3 separate regions of the Homo sapiens genome follow, and all the other regions are linked to region 1. Evidence: fine-mapped expression QTL. A gene starts in region 1. Each other region holds a variant in brackets. All regions are shown on one strand. Distances are from middle to middle.

What was found. PIP is the estimated chance that this variant, and not a neighbour inherited with it, causes the effect.
Region 2: its variant is fine-mapped to the expression of ERCC1 in monocytes (BLUEPRINT, PIP 0.95).
Region 3: its variant is fine-mapped to the expression of ERCC1 in atrial appendage (GTEx, PIP 0.96).

What each region holds. Positions count from the first base shown.
Region 1 is chr19:45,420,955-45,427,930 of GRCh38, forward strand. ERCC1 (ERCC excision repair 1, endonuclease non-catalytic subunit) reads right to left here and starts at 2,963. Exons shown (of 10, transcript NM_001983.4): 1 at 2,827-2,963; 2 at 2,316-2,427; 3 at 224-439. The coding sequence starts at 2,420. RefSeq lists enhancers at 2,949-3,038, 3,099-3,148, 3,397-3,691.
Region 2 is chr19:44,547,462-44,554,437 of GRCh38, forward strand. It overlaps the pseudogene CEACAM22P. Among named protein-coding and RNA genes, the nearest start is that of CEACAM20, 21 kb to the left of the region's middle. The variant TATATACACGTTC/T (reference allele first, on the strand shown) is at 3,957.
Region 3 is chr19:45,198,282-45,205,257 of GRCh38, forward strand. It overlaps a transcript of BLOC1S3 not described here. Among named protein-coding and RNA genes, the nearest start is that of BLOC1S3, 23 kb to the left of the region's middle. The variant C/A (reference allele first, on the strand shown) is at 4,026.

The sequences.
Region 1 (6,976 bases):
CCTGGGGTGAGGAAACAGAGCTACACCAATACAGCCACAGCCCCAGCAAGTAGAGCTGGGGCACTCTCAACCCACACACTGCTGTCGAATGAATGAATGAATGAATGAATGAATGGGGAGAACAAAGTGGCTGGAACTCAGACCTCCTTGCACTGGAGTCATCCCTAGAACAGCGTTTCCCACTGAAAACCTCAAGGCCTCACTTCTCCGTCTCCCTCCTCACCTGCCGAGGGCTCACAATGATGCTGTTGGATTTTGCCCCGGGTTTCAGGGCCTGGTTGGGCGTCTCTCCTGCCAGGGGCTCTGACCCTGTGGGGCACGTGGCCCCAGCCCCTTCCAGAGGCTGTGAGATGGCATATTCGGCGTAGGTCTGAGGGGCCGCCTGGGCCGAGGTGTCCACAGTGGGAAGGCTCTGTGTAGATCGGAATAAGGGCTTGGCCTGTGGGGAGAAAGGGAGTTTGCAGGGGACTGGTTGGGGTGAGCAGAGGACATCTGAGGCCCTGTGAGTTCCTCTCCCCTTTCTTTTTCTTTTTTTGAGACAGTCTTGCTCTGTCACCCAGACTGGAGTGTAGTGGCACTATCTTGGCTCATTGCAACCTCCACCTCCCGGGTTCAAGCAATTCTGCCTCAGCTTCCCAAGTAGCTGGGATTACAGGTGCCCACCACCACGCCCAGCTAATTTTTTTTTTTTTTTTTTGAGATGGAGTCTTGCTCTGTCACCCAGGCTGGAGTGCAGTGGCGTGATCTCGGCTCACTGCAACCTCCGCCCCCCAGGTTCAAGCGATTCTCCTGTCTCAGCCTCCCAAATAGCTGGGACTACAGGCGTGTACCACCACGCTGGCTAATTTTTGTATTTTTAGTAGAGACAGGGTTTCAACATGTTGTCCAGGCTGATCTCGAACTCCTGACCTCAGGTGATCCGCCCGCCTCGGCCTCCCAAAGTCCTGGGATTACAGGTGTGAGCCACAGCACTTGACCCCTCTCCCCTCTTCAGGGCTGCCCATCCTCCTTCCTCCTAATGTCCCTTCCAGAAGGCTGAGAGCTCAAAATCTGAATTCAGCCACTTCTCCCCCACTCCTCAGCCTCCACTCTGGTCCCAGCCACCAGCGTTTCACCCTTGGACCACTGAAGTCACTTCCTCACCAGCTCCTTGCCCACACCCTCGCCCCCTGGAAGTCTGTCCCCTAACTAAGTCCTCATGTCCCTCCTCTGCTCAGAGCTGGTGGGTGGCTCCTGCCTCAGAGTGAAAGCCAAAGCTGTCACCATCACCCACAAGGCTCTAGATCTGTCCCTGCTCCTTGCCTCAGAAACTACACCTTCTACCACTTCTCCTTGCTTTCTCTACTCCAGCCCCACCAGACTTCGTTCTGCCCTTGAACACGGCAGGCTCTCTCTGACCTCAGGGCTTTGGCACTGGCTGTTCCCTCTACCCCAGATGTCGCCATGGCTCACTCCCTCACCTCTTTCACGTCTCTACCAAGATGTCACCTCCTCAGAGAGGCCCTCCCTTGACCTTCCTATCTAAAGTAGGAAGGGGCCAGGCATGGTGGCTCATGCCTGTACATCCCAGCACTTTGGGAGGCCGAGGTGGGCGGATCACTTGAGGTTCGAGACCAGCCTGACCAACATGGTGAAACCCGTCTCTACTAAAAATACAAAAATTAGCCAGGCGCGCTCCTGTAATCCCAGTTACTCGGGAGGCTGAGGCAGGAGAATCGCTTGAACCCAGGAGGCAGAGGTTGCAGTGAGCCGAGATGGTGCCAGTGCACTCCAGCCTGGGCAAAAGAGCGAGACTCTGTCTCAAAAAAATAAATAAATAAATAAATAAATAGAGTAGGAAGGTCCTCTCCCCCATCATGCCCTACATCCTTAGCCCACTTTCCTTTTCTTCATAGCCAATGCTCATCACCCGTCGATTGTTTTCCCTTGGGAAGGAGATTTCAATATTGCCAGGTCCTTCCATTTACCAAAATATGTCTAAAGTGTAGATTTTTTTAAGATTGCAAAACCTGGCGATTCTTAAACACGAGCAATAAATTCATGTCTTGAAAAATCAGGGTGCTGGCCTCGTAAAACACATCAGGGGCTACCTGCTGAATGCCAGTGTCTGGCCTCTGCCTTAGCCCTCTCTTAGAACCACCCATCCATTTCACAGATGGGGAAACTGGGACCTGGGGAGGACCAAGGACTGTTTCCCCAAGTCGTCCGTGGCCCCCAAATCCACTAACCCACACCCTGGTCCCACAGGCCCCATCCTATCCTCTTCGTCCTAACAGCCCCCAGCCTCCCAGGGGCCCCGCATCTCCTTGTCCTACCACTCCAGGAGGGACCTCATCCTCGTCGAGGGGTATCACAAATTTCTTCCTTGCTGGCGGCCCTGAGGGCTGGGGCACCCCCTCTTTGTCCTTCCCAGGGTCCATCTGGAGCCTGAAAGGGAAGGTGCCAGGAGCGAGTGAGCCACTGGCGTCTACGTTCTCATCCCGCAGCAGGAACCCCCCACTCACAGCCGTCCCCCACAAAACTCCGAGAGCTCCATAGCGTCAGGTCCCCAACACCCAGCGCTAGAGGCTCTGTAACGCCACGCCCCTTTGACCTCCACCTTCGGCTCGCCCCGCCCCTTACAGGTCCACAAGTCCCATCGCTCCGCCCCTCGCCCCCACCGGATTCTATTGGCTCCGTCCCCACCATCCCCCGCCTTCCGTTCGTCCGGCCCCCGAGGCTAGCATCTGGACGCCCTCCCCACGCCTGGCCTTGTCCATCTCTCAGACTCGGCAATGATTGGCTTCCGCGGCGCCAATCTCCACCCGCAGTCTCCGCCTCCCGCACCTGTGGTCCGGGCCTCACGGTTTCAGCGCCGCGAGGCCTCACCTGCTGGTCTTGGAGCCTCAAGGGAAAGACTGCAGAGGGATCGAGGCGGCCCACTGCCAGCACGGCCAGCGTGGCCCAGGGCTCGCAGCACTTCCGGCCTCTCTGGCCCCGCTCCCCAGGAGAGTAGAGCATAGAGCAGGGCGATCTCTGTACAACTCTCTATGGTTCTGGAGGACCGCGGAGGTCGTGGGAGGAGAGAGATGTGGCCTGAGGATCTGGCTCCCAAACTGTTAAGTTTCAAAGCCCTTACTGAGCGCTTCTGTGTGCCCAGAATCCTGGCAGGGCTCAGTGGAGAACAGATCGCAGGAGATCCAACTTGGTCCCTCCTCTCAGTAAGGAGAGACTTAAGTTTGAATCCAACTCAGACATTGACTTGGCTTCAGTTTCCTCATTCATTCATTTATTCCACACCTATTCCCCCCACGCGCTTCCTCTCTTCCCGGTCCTGTGCGAGTCCGTGCTGGTGACACAGCAGTGACCAACGACAGCCCCGTGTTGTCCTCCCGGAGCTTACGGTTCAGTAAGGGACACAGACACGTTCCCAGTGCTGACCCAGAATGGGCAGGTCTGGGATGGGAGATCCCGGGAGAGCCGTGGGATGGGGGTCAGGGGGAGCGCCTGACTCAGCCCCGGAGTCCGGAAGGGCTTCCTGGAGGAAGGGACATCTGAGCAGGGGCCTGGCTGATGAGTTAGTATTAGTCACTTCCTGAAAGGATAGTATCACACTGTTCTAACTTGCAGCTCTCTGATTACTAAGGAAATGGAATGTTTTTTGTGAAAGTATTGGTCTTGTAAATTTTGTCTTCTGTGAATTGCTTGCTCATATTCCTTGTCCATTTTTAAAATGGGTTGTATGGCTTTTTTATTACTATTAATTTCTAGGGGTACTTTATGGATTCTGATTCTAATCCTTAGTTACCCATATTGCAAACATTTCCTCCTAGTTTCTACTTTGGGCTTTAACTTTAGTTATTTTTGGCACAGAAGTTATTTGTGTTTATGCGCAACTATTTATCAATCTGTTCCGTTCTGACTTTTGCTTTTGGTGTGTTAAGAGCCCTGCCATAACCCAGGGTCATAATGATAAATTCTTTTTTTTCTTTTTTTTTTTTTTTTCGAGACGGAGTTTCGCTCTTATTACCCAGGCTGGAGTGCAATGGCGCGATCTCAGTTCACTGCACCTCCCCCTCCCGGGTTCAAGCGATTCTCCTGCCTCCTTAGTAGCTGGGATTACAGGCATGTGCCACCATGCCCGGCTAATTTTTTTTTTTTTTTTTTTTTTTTGTATTTTTAGTAGAGACGGGGTTTCACCATGTTGGCCAGGCTGGTCTCAAACTCCTGACCTCAGCTGATCCTGAGGTCACTTTGTGACCTCCCAAAGTGCTGGGATTACAGTGCACGGCTATAATGATATATTCTATCATTTCTTTTATCTACGTAAAAGATAAAAGCCCCGTGTTGTCCTCCCAGAGCTTACAGTTCAGTGAGGGACACAGACACGGTCCCAAACAGTAATGACCTAGAATGAGCAGGTCATCTGGCTTTAATCTATGTAAGATTTATTTATTTATTTATTATTTTTTGAGATGGAGTTTTGCTCTTGTTGCCTAGGCTGGAGTGCAATGGAGCAATCTAGGCTCACTGCAACCTCCGCCACCCACATTCAAGCAGTTCTCCTGCCTCAGCCTCCCAAGTAGCTGGGATTACAGGCTAACTTTTGTATTTTTAGTAGAGACGGAGTTTCACCATGTTGGCCCTGCTGGTCTCGAACTCTTGACCTCAAGTGATCTGCCCACCTCAGCCTCCCAAAGTGCTGGGATTACAAGCATGAGCCACGGTGCCTGGCCAAGATTTATTTTTGAAAGTGCACCGAGGTCGTTGTTTATGAGTGATGTAACCAATTGTCTCAAGTTGACCAAAGGTAGATCTTTTCTCCACTGTTCTGAAATTCTACCTTTATCACATACCAAATTCCCATACACACACGTCTATTTCTGACATTTCTGTTATGTTCATTGATCTTTTTATTTATTCTTGCCTGCATGTACATGACATCCCTCTGTTTCTTTGTTCACATCAGTCTTTCATCTATGGGTGTCTATCTGTGTCTACATTTTCCCATTTTACTTAATTTTTTTTTTCTGGGCATGGTGGCTAATGTCTGTAATCCTAGCACTTTGGGAGGCCTAGGCGGGTGGATCACCTGAGGTCAGGAGTTCGAGACCAGCCTGACCAACATGGAGAAATCCTATCTCTATTAAAAATACAAAATTAGAGTCCCGGTGCAGTGGCTCACACCTGTAATCCCAGCACTTTGGGAGGCCGAGACAGGCGGATCACGAGGTCAGGAGTTCAAGACCAGCCTGGCCAATATGGTGAAACCCCGTCTTTACTAAAAATACTAAAATTAGTTGGGCGTGGTAGCGCACACCTGTAGTCCCAGCTACTCAGGAGGCTGAGGCAGAAGAATCGCTTGAACCTGGGAGGCGGAGGCTGCAGTGAGCCGAGATTGTGCCACTGGACTCCAGCCTGGGTGACAGAGCCAGACTCTGTCTCAAAAAAAAAAAAAAAAAAAAAAATTAGCCGGGCATGGTGGCACATGCCTGTAATCCCAGCTACTCAGGAGGCTGAGGCAGGAGAATTGCTTGAACCCTGGAGGCAAAGGTTGCGGTGAGCTGAGATCGCACCATTGCACTCCAGCCTGGGCAACAAGAGTGAAACTCCATCTCAAAAAAAAAAAAAAAATTTTTTTTGAGACAAGGTCTTGATCTATTGCCCAGATTTATTGTCCTGAACCTTGCTTACCTCAAATGCCTTTTTCTTTTCACCCTAACAATTGAAATCCAGAATTCTAGGCTGGGTGCGGTGGCTCATGCCTATAATCCCAACAATTTAGGAGGCCAAGGTGGGCAGATTGCTTGGGCTCCAGAGTTCAAGACCAGCCAGGGCAACATGACAAAACCCCATCTCTACAAAAAAACACAAAAATTGGCTGGGCAAGGTAGCTCATGCCTGTAATCCCAGCACTTTGGAAAGCTGAGGCAGGAGAATCACTTGAACCCGGGAGGTGGAAGTTGTAGTGAGCCAAGATCACGCAATTGTACTCCAGCCTGGGCGACAAAAGCGAAACTCCATCTAAAAAAAAAAAAAAAAAAAAAAAGCTATGTGTGTTGGTGTGCACCTGTAGTCCCAGATACTCAGGAGGCTGAGGAGGGAGAATTGCTTGAGCCCAGGAGGCAGAGGCTGCAGTGAGCTGCGATTGTGCCACTGCACTCCAGCCTGGGTGACAGAGTGAGACCAAAAACAAACAAAACAAAACAAACAAACAAACAAAAAAACGAAAGAAAAGAAAGGAAAGAAAAAGGAAATCCAGAATCCTAGGTTCTTAGTATTGTTTCTTGCAATGTTAGAAGATATAGGGGCCAGGAGAGGTGGCTCACGCCTAGTAGGAAGGAAGGAGAATCAGTCTAATAGTCTCATCACTAGGTATAATTTTCCCCCAGGAGGCCGGGCACAGTGGCTCACGCCTGTAATCTCGGCACTTTGGGAGGCCGATGGAAGGTGGATCACGAGGTCAGGAGTTCAAAACCAGCCTGGCCAAGATGATGAAACCTTGTCTCTACTAAAAAATACAAAAAAAAAATTAGCCGGGCGTGGTGGCGGACGCCTGTAATCCCAGCTACTCGGGAGGCTGAGACGGAGAATTGCTTGAACCCAGGAGGCGGAGGTTGCAGTGAGCCGAGATTACACCACTGCACTCTAGCCTGGGCGACAGAGCGAGACTCCGTCTCAAAAAACGAAAAAAAGAAAAAATGAAATATGCCTCTGTATCCAAGACCATACAGCGATTCTAGAAGTAGGTCATCCCAAGTAGAAGGGCTTGTGACTCAGTTATCCCCTTGGGGAATGGAATTGCCAGACTTAACCCTGCAACTCCTGCGTTTTCTGCAAGGGGGCGATGGTGCACCACAAGAGGATTGGAAGTGTTGGGGAGCCGGGGCCTCTCTGCTCCGCCAGAACCCAGCGGGGGCAGGACCCCCTAGAAGGCGGCCCATTCCCCGCTCCCGATTCATTTCCTTGAAGCAGAAGTGCGGTAAAGGGCCCGCCG
Region 2 (6,976 bases), 870 kb before region 1:
GGAAGAGTATGAGAAGTAAGGACCACCCCCCTAGATTGTGCATTTCAGCTCAGTGTTGGAAGCCTGACATGTTGAGGGAGGCACACAGCACCACAACGTAAAAGTTTGTCAGAGGAAGGAAGGGAGGGAGGGGAGGAAGGGAGGGAGGGAGGGAGGGAGGGAGGAAGGAAGGAAGGAAGGAAGGAAGGAAGGAAGGAAGGAAGGAAGGAAGGAGGGAAAGAACAAACGAACCATGGCTGGCGGTAGCCTCCCTCTTGTGTCTATTACCCTCCTTGATCTTTGAAGACTGTCAGCTCCATGAGGACAGGGATATGCTTGTCAGTTATGTTAACTGCTTTGACTAGAAATAACACCCAATACACACAGCACACAGTGGATGCTCAGTAGATGCTTTCCCAAAAGTAGAGAGACAGAGGGGCAGAGAGAGAAAAACACATGGGTTCAAGTTCTTATCTTTCTTCTTGACCACGGTGAGATCTTGGGTGAGCCCTTCCCCTTTCTTAATCTCAGTTTTCTTGTTTGTAAAATGTGGTGTCTCTGAAAGTCCTTCCAGTTCTGCAAATATTTATGTTGTCGAGTCTGGAATTTCTGGGATCTTGGCTTCCTACAATCTCCATCTACCTTTGTACCTGAGATTGAATGGGTCTGAAAGTCCTTAATTGGGTACATAGTAGAAGCTCAATACATGCCCCTTAAATAAATAAATGATGATAAACTTCTGAGAGAATAGTCATTGTAAACGTCTATTAAGCACTTAGTGTGCAGAGTAGTGGAAAAGAATAAAGAAAAAAAGAGAAAAAAAGAAGCACTTGCTATGTTCCAGGCACTATTCTAAGTTCCTTAAATGAACTAACTCACTTAATCCTCATAATCACCCAATGAGATAGATAATATTATGATTCTCACTTTGCAGATGAGAAAACTGAGGACATAGAAAAGTGAAGTGACTTGCCCAAGGACACCTAGCTAAGAAATAGCAGGGACGGCTGGGCGCAGAGGCTCACGCCTGTAATTCTAGCACTTTGGGAGGCTGAGGCAGGAGGATTGCTTGAGCTTAGGAGTTCAAGACTAGGCTGGGCAACATAGTGAGACTTTGTCTCTACCAAAACTTGTAAAAATTAGCCAGGCATAGAGGCATGTGCCTGCGATCCCAGCTACTCCGGTGGCTGAGGCAGGAGGATTGCTTGAGCCCAGAAGGGCAAGGCTGCAGTGAGCTATGATCCAGCCACTGCACTCCAGCCTGGACAACAGAGTGAGACCATGACTCAATAAATAAATAAATAAAAGAAACAGAAGCACTAGGATTTGAACCAAGGCAGTCTGTAGAGTCTCTGATTTAAACGCTAAGCTATAAATCATGGATGAACCAGTAGATAGTTGGGCTGGAGGTTCTGTGTGGATCAGAGGTGAGTCAGAGCAAAGAAACCCAGACTTACAAGCCACGCCAACCACGAGGGCTTCACTGAGCCTGGATCCCAGGTGGTTCCTGGCCTCACAGTGGTAGGTGCTGGAGTCATTGCGTGTGACTGTGGGGATGGTGAGGACCCTGCCATCTCTGGAGATTACTGGTCCATCCCCTTCCTGAATCACCTCAAGGTTCAGAAACCACTGGAATGTCCTGTCATTGTTTGGAGAAATGCATGTCAAATTCAAGGAGTCTGTGTGCTCCAGAGGGGCCAAGTTCTGGGCTTCCACCGGGGGCTGGTGCAGCTTCTCTGGGGAGAAGGAAAGAGAAAGAATGGCGTTATAGGACATGGGAGGATCTGGAACCCTAGGAATGATCAGCAGCACGAATAGGCTGGGGACCTTGGAAACACCAGCGTTGGCTTTGCTGTTTCCAAGATGACCAATAAGCACACACACACACACACACACACACACACACACAGCCAACAGCTCTACTTCCGGAAGTTCTTAACTGTCTAGAGATCCCAGATCCTCTCCCCAGAAATACACCCAATAACACACACACCACACAAATACCTACACATTTGTATATAATTTCAAGGGGTTATGGGGCACTCTAAAGACCAACTTTAGATTTCAAGTGAGGAATCTTATACCTAGATTACAAATTAGTAAATATCTTTCTTTTTTGAGACAGGGTCTTGTTCTGTTGCCCAGGCTTCAGTGCAGTGGCACTAACACGGCTCACCATAGTCTCAACCTCCCAGGCACAAGCGATCCTCCCGCCTCAGCCTCCTGAGTAGCTGAGATCCATGCATGTCACCATCCTCAGCTACTTTTGAAAAACTTTTGTAGGGTGGGGTCTTGCTGTGCTGCCCAGGCTGGTCTCAAACTCCTGGGCTCAAGTGATCCTCCTGTCTTGACCTCCCAAAGTGCTGGCCTGACAGGAAGTAAATATCTTTCTTGAAGTCAACTTAGAAATACAAGTTGAAAGTTACACATGTTTATATAACTTTTGACCCAATGATTACACTTTTAAAAACAGTTTTATTGAGGTATAATAAGCAAATAAAAATGTTGTATGTTCAAAGTGTACAACTTGATGTTTTGATAGTTGATCTCTACAATCAAGCTAATTAATATATCCATCACCGGCTGGGTGTGGTGGCTCAGGCCTGTAATCCCAGCTCTTTGGGAGGCTGAGGAAGGTGGATCACCTGAGGTCAGGAGTTTGAGACCAGCTTGGCCAACATGGTGAAACCCCGTCTCTACTAAAAAATACAAAAATTAGCCAGGTGTGGTGGCACGCACTTGTAATTCCAGCTACTTGGGAGGCTGAGGTGGGAGGATCTCTTGAACCTGGATGGTGGGGGTTGCAGTGAGCCGAGATCATACCACGACACTCCAGCATGGACAACAGAGTGAGACTCCATCTCAAAAAAATGAAAAAAAAAAAAAGGAAGAAAGGAAAAAAAACTGCTGGATGCTTGCTTGCATTGCTTCCATTGCTTGCACTGCAAGCATTATCTCATGTACTACTGGTACCACCCTGTGCTGTAAGGACTATTAATATCCCATTTTACAACAGGTAAACTGAGGTTTATGTTGGGTAAGTGAGTTGTGAAAAACCAAGTTGTAAGTGGGTGAATCATTTTTAAACTCAGGGCTATGTGACTCCAAACTTCATAACCACTGTGAAATAAATACTATGTAGAAAAATCTATTTTTAAAAAATCTCAGAAAATGAAGCAGGCACAGTTTTCCCTATTCCATCCCGAGCACAGTTAAAAACCTTGGATATTATCACTTCTACACTGCTGGTGGGAATGTAAACTAGTACAGCCGTTATGAAAAACAGTGTGGAGATTCCTTAAACAACTAAAAGTAGAACTACCATTTGATCCAGCAGTCCCACTACTGGGTATCTACCCAGAGGAAAAGAAGTCATTACACAAAAAAGATACTCGCACACGCATGTTTATAGCAGCACAATTCACAATTGCAAAATCGTGGCACCAACCCAAATACCCATCAATCAACAAGTGGATAAAGAAACTGTGATATATATATATATGTTCATATATACGTTCATATATATATGTTCATATATACGTTCATATATACGTTCATATATACGTTCATATATATACGTTCATATATGCGTTCATATATGCGTTCATATATATACGTTCATATATGCGTTCATATATATACGTTCATATATGCGTTCATATATATACGTTCATATATACGTTCATATATATACGTTCATATATGCGTTTATATATACGTTCATATATGCGTTCATATATATGCGTTCATATATATGCGTTCATATATACGCGTTCATATATACGTTCATATATACGCGTTCATATATACGCGTTCATATATACGCGTTCATATATACGCGTTCATATATACGTTCATATATACGCGTTCATATATACGTTCATATATATACGTTCATATATACGTTCATATATATACGTTCATATATATACGTTCATATATATACGTTCATATATATACGTTCATATATACGTTCA[TATATACACGTTC/T]ATATATACGTTCATATATACGTTCATATATACGTTCATATATACGTTCATATATACATTCATATATATGTTCATATATACGTTCATATATATGTTCATATATATATATATATATATATATATATATATGAATGATGGAATACTACTCGGTCATAAAAAGGAATGAATTAACAACATTTGCAATGACCTGGATGAGACTGGAGACTATTATTCTAAGTGAAGTAACTCAGGAATGGAAAACCAAACATCATATGTTCTCACTGATATGTGGGAGCTAAGCTATGAGGACACAAAAGCGTAAGAATGATACAATGGACTTTGGGGACTTGGGGTGAAGAGTGGGAGGGGAGTGAGGGATGAAAGACTACAAATAGGGTGGAGTGTATACCGCTCAGGTGATGGGTGCACCAAAATCTCACAAATCACCCCCAAAGAACTTACTCATGTAACCAAACCGACCTGTACCCCAATAATCTATGGAAAAATAAATAAAATAAAATAAAGCAATAGAGAAAAAGCCTCAAAAATATGAACAGAACATCATTGTTCTATGGGAATAATATCAAGCAGTCTATCACAGGTGCAGCTAAAGAATGAATAAATAAATAAATAAATAAATAAATAAATAAATAAATAAAAATAGATGACTCGGAAAGGAGGAGAGAATATGGCAGACTGGCTGCGGATCTCAAGACCGGAGAAAGCACATGGTGGTGAGTTTTCTGGACTTTCTTTGCGCCTCACAGATCCCAGACTGGGAGCTGGAGAGCCTGGCAATCTAGAAATGCCAATGAGTGTAGATCCAAAAGAGGCTCAAGCAAAGCCTGCTCTAGCCAAAGGACAAGGAGCAGTAGCCTGACAAGATTTGCTAAAGACAGCAAATCTTTACAAGATAATCACTTTGCTGCTGTGATATCCCACAGAAAAGCCTGGACATTTACCCTTGCCAGCTGTACAGAGACACCCATCCCCTCCACCAGGCTGAATAAGCAGCTGGGACTGTCATCCTTGCCCAGCAGTAATGAGCACCGACCCTGCAGTGTCCATTGAGGCCACTAGGGAGCGGTAACGAGGCGTCTCTGCCCCTTCTGGGCAAGATGGTATCAGAGGATGTCTCAGTGGAAAGCCTGAACTCTGCTAACTGCCCAGAGTAACAGTTGCCCCGCCCCACCTGGAATGTCAACAGAGGCCAAATGGGGAACCTGGACCTCCATCCCCACTGGCTATAACAAGATGGTGCCCTTTTTGCCCCACCAGCAAGATGTCAGAGGAGACCTGCTATAACAGAAGATTTAAATGAGATCCAGCGTCTCATAATTTCCAAAATGTCCAGGGTGTTGTTGAAAATCACTTGTCATACACCTACATGTAATCCCAATACTTTGGGAGGCCGAGGTGGGAGAATTGCTTGAGCTCAGAAGTTCGAGACCAGCGTGGGCAACATAGTGAGACCCCATCTCTACAAAAAAAAAAAAAAAATTGACTGAATGAGAAAGACATTCCTGAAATTAAATGAGGAAAGACAATTAATAGAGATGACATGGATTGTTGTTGATGTTTTCTAACTTGGTCTTGAGTTTTCTAGGGGATTTAGTTGTAGATGTTTAAAGTGTAATTTTCACTGGTTACTTCTTTATCTTGGTGGTCGGCCTAATGCCTACATGTCTGACCTGTGACCAGGTGTCCCTCTCACAGTACACTTATTTTTTGTGTGTTTGTTTGTTTTTGAGACAGAGTCTCACTCTGTCACCCAGGTCGGAGCGCAGTGGTATGGTCTTGGCTCACTGCAACCTCCACCTCCCAGGTTCAAGCAATTCTCATGCCTCAGCCTCCTGAGTAGGTGGGATTACAGACATATGCCACTACACCCAACTAATTTTTTTTTTTTTTTAAGTACAGACGGGGTTTCACCATGTTGGCCAGGCTGATCTTGAACTCCTAGCCTCATGGGATCCTCCCACCCCAACCTCCCATAGTGCTGGGATCACAGGCATGAGCCATCACACCTGGCCACAGTACACTTGTTTATAATGGCAGACATTCTTAAGGCTTTTGTCTGACCTGTGTCCAGTTTATTTCTACAAAGAGAGCCATGCTTTAGGACAGCCCTGACCAGGAAAGACGTTAGGTTTGGATGTGTCAGTCAGGTGAGACACAGAGGAGGCAGCACAACAAAACACATGAAATAACAGGGGCAGTTTATTACTCACAGATTCCGGAGAAGACAGAGCAGCACATCTCACAGAGCCAACAGGAAGAAGAGAGTTGTCGGGACACGCACACTCAACCAGCGGGTGGGGAGCAAGAAAGAGAAAGTGAGAGACCTGTGGGCTGATGCTTTTATTGGAGTCTAAGGAAACTGCTCAGGCAGTTTTCCACAGAGAATTCTAACTGGGTTTAGAGCCAGCAGGCACAAGTTGCATGGAGTCACACTGACTGGGAGGTGATCACTGTGGCATATCTGCACAGCCTATGCAGGGTCTGGGGGTCAGGGGGACAGTCAGGTGAGTTATATCTAGCTGTTGCATAAGGAGGTGGTTAACAGGAAGTGGTAGTGTAAGGCAGGTATCTGGATCTGCCACATTAAGGATCTGGGGGGAGGCGGAGACCTGGAAACTGTGTCAAGGGTGACTAAGCTTTTCTTATGGTATGAGAAAGTCCAACTTATATTCAAAATAGATACTGAGCCAGGCACAGTGGCTCACATCTGTAATCCCAACACTTTGGGAGGCTGAGGCAAGAGGATTGCTTGAGCTCAGGAGTTTGAGACCAGCCTGGGCAACACAGTGAGACCTCCGTCTCTACAAATAAAATTTCAAAAAATTAGCTGGGTGTGGTGGCATACGCCTATAGTCCCAGCTACTTGGGGGACTGAGATGAGAGGTTCACTTGAGCCCAGGAGCTCGAGGCTGCAGTGAGCCGTGATTGCACCACTGCACTCCAGCCTGGGTGACAGAGTGCGACCCTGTCTCAAAACAATAACATTTCAAAAATTGATACTGAGTTTC
Region 3 (6,976 bases), 220 kb before region 1:
TTTTTTTGTTTGTTTGTTTTGTTTTGTTTTCAGAGTCTTGCTTTGTTGCCCAGGCTCTGGAGTGCAGTGGTGCGAGCTCGGCTCACTGCAACCTCCGCCTCCCAGGTTCAAGCAATTCTCCTGCCTCAGCCTCCCAAGTAGCTGGGATTACAGGCACCCGCCACCACGCTCAGCTAACTTTTTTGTATTTTTAGTAGAGACAAGGTTTCGCCATGTTGGCCAGGCTGGTCTTGAACTCCTGACCTCAGGTGATCCACCTGTCTCAGCCTCCCAAAGTGCTGGGATTACAGGCGTGAGCCGCCGCACCCAGCCAACTTCATCACTTTCAATATGTCGTGCCACTCTATCCTAGCCTGTGAGGTTTCCACTGAAGTCTGCTGCCAGACGTATTGGAGCTCCATTGTATGTTTGTTTTTGTTTTTGTTTTTGAGACAGAGTCTCACTCAGTCACCCAGGCTGGAGTACAGTGACGAAATCTCGGCTCACTGCAACCTGCACCTCCCAGGTTCAAGCGATTCTCGTGCCTCAGCCTCCCGAGTAGCTGGGATTACAGGTGTGAGCCACTGCGCCTGGCCTCATGCCTGGCTAATTTTTTTTGTATTTTTAGTCGAGACGGGATTTCACCATGTTGCCCAGACTGGTCTGTAACTCCTGGCCTCAAGTGATTCACCCGCCTCAGCCTCCCTAAATGCTGGGGATTACAGACGTGAACCACTGCACACGGCCTCCATTGTAAGTTATTTGTTACTTTTCTCTTGCTGCTTTTAGGACCCTTTCTTTATCCCTGATCTTTGGGAGTTTGATTATTAAATGCCTTGAAGGTAGTCTTTGGGTTAAATCTGCCTAGTGTTCTATAACCTTCTCGTATTTGAATATTGATATCTTTTTCTAGGTTTGGAAAGTTCTCTGTTATTATCCCACTTAATAAACTTTCTATTCCAATCTCTCTACTTTCTCTTTACGGCCAATAAAACTCAGATTTTTCCTTTTTGTGGCTATTTTCTAGATCTTGTAGGTGTGCCTTATTCTTTTTTTTTTTTTTTTTTTTTTTTTGAGATGGAGTCTTGCTCTGTCTCCAGGCTGGAGCACAGTGGCACGATCTTGGCTCACTGCAACCTCCGCCTCCCGGGTTCAAGCAATTCCCCTGCCTCAGCCTCCCGAGTAGCTGGGATTACAGGTGCCTGCCACTACACCTGGCTAATTTTTTGTATTTTGGTAGAGATGGGGTTTCACCATGTTGGCCAGGATGGTCTCAAACTCCTGACCTCGTGATCCGCTTGCCTCGGCCTCCCAAAGTGCTGGGATTACAGGTGTGAGCCACTGCGCCTGGCCTTTATTCTTTTTTATTTTTTCTTTTGTCTCCTCTGGCTGTGTCTTGTCCTGTCTCATCTCTTTTCTCTTCTCTTCTGTTCTCTTCTGTTCTCTTCTCTTCTGTTCTCTTCTCTTCTTTCTTCTCTTCTCTTCTCCTCCTCTCCTCTCCTCTCTTCTCTTCTCTTTTTGAGACAGAGTCTCACTTTGTCGACCAGGCTGGAGTGCAGTGGTGCTGCAATCTTGGCTCACTACAACCTCCACTTCCTGCGTTCAATCAATTCTGGAGCCTCAGCCTCCTGAGTAGCTGGGATTACAGGCATGCACCACCATGCCCAGCTAATTTTTCTATTTTTAGTAGAGACAGGATTTCACTATGTTGGCCAAACTAGTCTCAAACTCCTGACCTCAGGTGATCCAACCACTTCAGCCTTTCAAAGTGCTGGGATTACAGGTATGAGCCACTGTGCCCGGCCTGACTGCATATTTTCAAATAGCCTGTCTTTGAGCTCACCAATTCTTCAGGTTGATCAATTCTACTGTTCAGAGACTGATGCATTCTTCAGTGTGTCAGTTGAATTTTTTCTACTTAATTTTTTTTTTTTTTTTTGAGACGGAGTCTCGCTGTGTCGCCCAGGCTGGGGTGCAGTGACACGATCTCCGCTCACTGCAAGCTCCACCTCCCGAGTTCATGCCATCCTCCTGCCTCAGCCTTCCGAGTAGCTGGGACTACAGGCGCCTACCACCACGCCTGGCTAATTTTTTTGTATTTTTAGTAGAGATGGGGTTTCACCGTGTTAGCCAGGATGGTCTTGATCTCATGACCTCGTGATCCACCTGCCTCGGCCTCCCGAAATGCTGGGATTACAGGTGTGAGACACCGTGCCCAGCCCCTTTCTGCTTAATTTTTAAAAATTATTTCAATCTGTTTGGTTAATTTATCCGATAGGATTCTGAATCCCTTCTCTGTGTTATCTTGAATTTCATTGAGCTTCCTCAAAACAGCTGTTTTGAATTCTCCGTCTGAAAGGTCACATAGCTCTGTCACAATGGGGTTGGTCACTGGAGCCTTGTTTAGTTCACTTGGTGAGGTCATGTTTTCCTGGATGGTGTCAATGCTTGTGGATGTTCGTCAATGGCTGGGCATTGATGAGTTCAGTGTTTATTGTAGTCTTTGTAGTCTGAGCTTATTTGAACCCATCCTTCTTGGGAAGGCTTGCCAGGAAATTGAGTGTTGTGAACTAAACTTTTGGTCACTGCAGCTGTATCTGCATTAGGGGGCACCCCAGGCTCAGTAATGCTGTGATTCTTGCAGCATCTTAGAGGTGCTGGCCAGGCGCAGTGGCTCACGCCTGTAATCCCAGCACATTGGGCAGCCTAGGCAGGCGGATCATCTGAGGTCGGGAGTTTGAGACCAGCCTGGCCAACATGGTGAAACCCTGTCTCTACCAAAAAATACAAAAATTTGCCAGGCGTAGGGGTGGGCGCCTGTAGTCCCAGCTACTTGGGAGGCTGAGGCGGGAGAATCACTTGCGCATGGGAGGTGGAGGTTGCACTGAGTGGAGATTGCAGCACTGCATTCCAGCCTGGGCGACAGAGTAAGACCCTGTCTCAAAAAAAAAAAAAAAAGGAATCTTAGAGGTACTGCCTCAGTGGTCTTGGTTAAGATTCAGGAGAATTCCCTAAATTACCAGGCAGAAACTCTTCTCTTCCCTTACTTTCTCCAAACAAACGCAGTCTCTCTATCTCTGTACGGAGCTGCCTGGGGCTGCTGGAGGGGTGACACAAGTACCCTTGTGGCCACCACCACTGGGACTGCACTGGGTCAGACCCAAAGCCAACACACCACTAGGTCTCACCCAGGGCCCGTGGCAACCACTACCTGGCTTCCACCAATGTTCACACAAGGCCCAAGGGCTCTTCGGCCAGCAGGTGGTGAAGCCTGCCGGGCTTGTGTCCTTCCCTTCAGGATGGTGAGTTCTCTCCTGGCCCAGGGCAGGTCCAGAAATGCCATCTGGGAGCCAGGGCCTGGAGACAGAAACCTTAGGAATCTACCTGGTGCTCTATTCTACTGTGGCTGAGCTGGCACCCAAGCCACAAGAAAAAGTCTTTCCTACTTGATATGGTTTGGCTGTGTCCCACCCAAATCTCATCTTGATTTGTAGCTCCCATAATTCCCCTATGTTATAGGGGGTACCCAGTGGGAGATAAGTGAGTCATGGGGGCAGTTTCCCCCATACTGTTCTTGTGGTATTGAATAAGTCTCATGAGATCTGATGGCTTTATAAGGGGAAACCCCTTTGGCTTGGTTCTCATTCTGTCTTGCCTGCCACCATGTAAGACGTGCCTTTTGGCCAGGCATGGCAGCTCACGCCTGTAATCCCAGCACTTTGGGAGGCCGAGGCGGGTGGATCATGAGGTCAGGAGATCGAGACCATCCTGGCTAACATGGTGAAACCCCGTCTCTACTAAAAACTACAAAAAATTAGCTGGGCGCCTGTAATCCCAGCTACTCTGGAGGCTGAGGCAGGAGAATGGCGTGAACCCGGGAGGCAGAGCTTGCAGTTAGCCCAGACTGTGCCACTGCACTCCAGCCTGGGTGACAGAGTGAGACTCCATCTAAAAAAAAAAAAAAAAAAAAAAAAAAAGACGTGCCTTTCAGCTTCTGCCATGATTGTGAGGCCTCCCCAGCCACGTGGAACTGGGAGTTCATTAAG[C/A]CTCTTTTTCTTTATTAATTACCCAGTCTCAGGTATGTCTTTATCAGCAGCATGAAAACAGACTAATACACCACTCTTCCCTCACTTTTCCTCACACAGGAGTCTCTCTCTGTGGCCACCACTGCTCCAGGCCCATGGCAGGTACTGCCTGGCTACTGCTGATGTTCACTCAAGGCCCAGGCCCTCTTCAGTCAGCTTGTGGTGAGTGCTGCCAGGCCTGGGTCTTTTCCTTCAGGGAAGACAGCTCCCCTCTAGCCCAGGGCAGGTCCAGAAATGCTGTGCAAGAGCCAAGACCTCAATTGGGGATGCCAGCAGCTGCTGGGTGCTCTACCCTACTGTGGCCAAGCTGGTGTCCAAGATGCAAGACAAAGTCTCCTTTACTCTTTCCTCTCCTTTCCTCAAGCAGGAGTCTTTCCCCAGGGCCACCACAGCTGGGAATGCGCTGGGTCACACCTGAAATCAGCACGGCACTGGGTCTCACCCAAGGCCTGCGGCGAGCACTCTCTGGCAACCACTGATGTTTATTCAAGGCCCAAGAGATCTTTAGTCAGCAAGTAATGAATCCTGCCAGGACTGGGTCCTTCCTTTCAAGGCAGCGGCTTCCCTTCTGGTCCAGGGTGTGTCCAAAAATGTCATCCAGGAGTTAGGGCCTGGAATGGGGGCCTCAGGACTCCGCCTGGTGCCCTATCCTCCTATGGCTGAGCTGGTATCCAAGTTGCAAAACAAAGACCTCTTGACTTTTCGTCTCCTCTTCTCAAGCAGAAGGAAGGAGTCTCTCCCGGAACTGCAAGCTATACTGCCTGGGGTTTGGGGCTCGGGGGCTCAAGCACTCCCTTGGCTGCCTCAGCCAATGTCTCAGTGGGCCTCATGCCCTCCAGGTCCACTTGTTCTGAGCCCAGCAAGGCACCAGGACTTGCCCAGAAATTGCAGTCCTTGTGGCCTGACTGCCTTTCAAGTTTATTTATTTATTTATTTATTTATTTATTTGAGATGGAGTCTTGCTGTTGTCCGGGCTGGAGTGCAATGACGTGCTCTCGGCTCACTGCAATCTCTGCCTCTTGGGTTCAAGCGATTCTCCTGCCTCAGCCTCCTAAGTAGCTGGGATTACAGGCGTGCGCCACCATTCCCAGCTAATTTTTGTATTTTTAGTAGAGACGGGGTTTCACCATGTTGGTGAGGCTGGTCTCGAACTCCTGACCTCGTGATCCGCCTGCCTAAGCTTCCCAAAGTGCTGGGATTACAGGCATGAGCCACCGCGCCCAGCCTCAAGTTGATTTAGGGTCCCAGAGCACTTTGGCCCGCAGTGGCTAGGCATGCCAGAACTCAGGTTCTCACCACTAGAATAGATGATTTCCCTCTGTCTAATGATCATTTAAATGCTCCCTCCATGGGTGGTGTCTGATTTCTGCCCCATGGTGCTTTCCACTGTAATAGAACAGCGCTGAGTTCCAATGCAAAGCCTCAAATCAGTCACTGAGCTCTCCCTACCCCAAATGCACAGATTCTCTCTCCTTGCCATCTGACTGCTGCCAGGAGATGTGGGAGGGGTGGCATTTTGGGGTAGCACCTCACCCCAAAAGCCCATTGGCTTAAAATAGCAGTCCCATCCCAAAATCTCAAACCACCCCAAAAGCTCATTGGCTTAAAATAGCAGTCAAATATGACATCTCATGGTTCAGTAGGTTAAGTGGGTTTAACCAGTCGATTCTTTTTTTTTTGAGATGGAGTCTCACTATGTCGCCCAGGTTGGAGTGCAGTGGCGCAATCTTGGCTCACTGCAATCTCTGCCTCCCCGGTTCAAGCAATTCTCCTGCCTCAGCCTCCCGAGTAGCTGGGATTACAGGTGCTGGCTACCACACCCGGCTGATTTTTGTTTTGCCTTTTTTTTTTTTTTTTTCTGAGATGGAGTTTTGCTCTTGTTGTCCAGGCTGGACTGCAATGGTGTGATCTCGGTTTACTGCAAACCTCCGCCTCCTGGGTTCAAGCGATTCTCCTGCCTCAGCCTCCCGAGTAGCTGGGATGACAGGCACCCACCACCATGCCCCAGCTAATTTTTTTGTATTTTCAGTAGAGACAGGGTTTCACCAAGTTGGCTAGGCTGGTCTTGAACCCCTGACCTCAGGTGATCCATGTGCCTCAGCCTCCCAAAATGCTGGGATTACAGGTGTGAGCTACTGCACCCTGCCAAATGAGCCAATGATTGGGTGGAGTTTCTCAACTAGTTGCATTCAGATGGCAGCTGGGGCTGGAGTCATCCAAAGGCTCAGCTGGGCTGGAAATCCAAGATGGCGTCTTACATGTCTGACATCTCAGTTGGGATGGCTAGATCAGCTGCGGCTGACCAGTTATCTATCTCTCTCTCCATGCTGCCTCTTGCCATGCCCAGCTTCAGCTTCTGCATAGCATGGCAGTCTCAGGATATTCAGAATTTTTTTTTTTTCCCCAGATGGAATCTCACTCTGCCACCAAGGCTAGAGTGCAGTGGCATGATCTTGGCTCACTGCAACCTCCACCTCCAGGGTTCAAGTGATTCTCGTGCCTCAGCCTCCTGAGTAGCTGGGATTACAGGCATGCACCACCATGCCTGGTTAATTTTTTTGTATTTTTAGTAGAGACAGGGTTTCTCCATGTTTGCTAGGCTGGTCTCAAACTCCTGACCTCGCGTAATCCCCCCACCTTGGCCTCCCAAAGTGCTAGGATTACATGTGTGAGCTGCCATGCCTGGCTGAAAATAATAGATTTATACCTAACCATACTAATAATTGCATTGACTCTAAATTATGTAAACATCCAATTATAAGACAGAGATTTCAGACTAAATGAAAAAGCATGACCCAACTCTATGCTGCCCACAAGAAATTGTGTGTGTGTGTGTGTGAGACGGAGTCTTGCACTGTCGCCCAGACTGGAGTACAGTGGCATGATCTCAGCTCACTGCAACCTCCACTTCC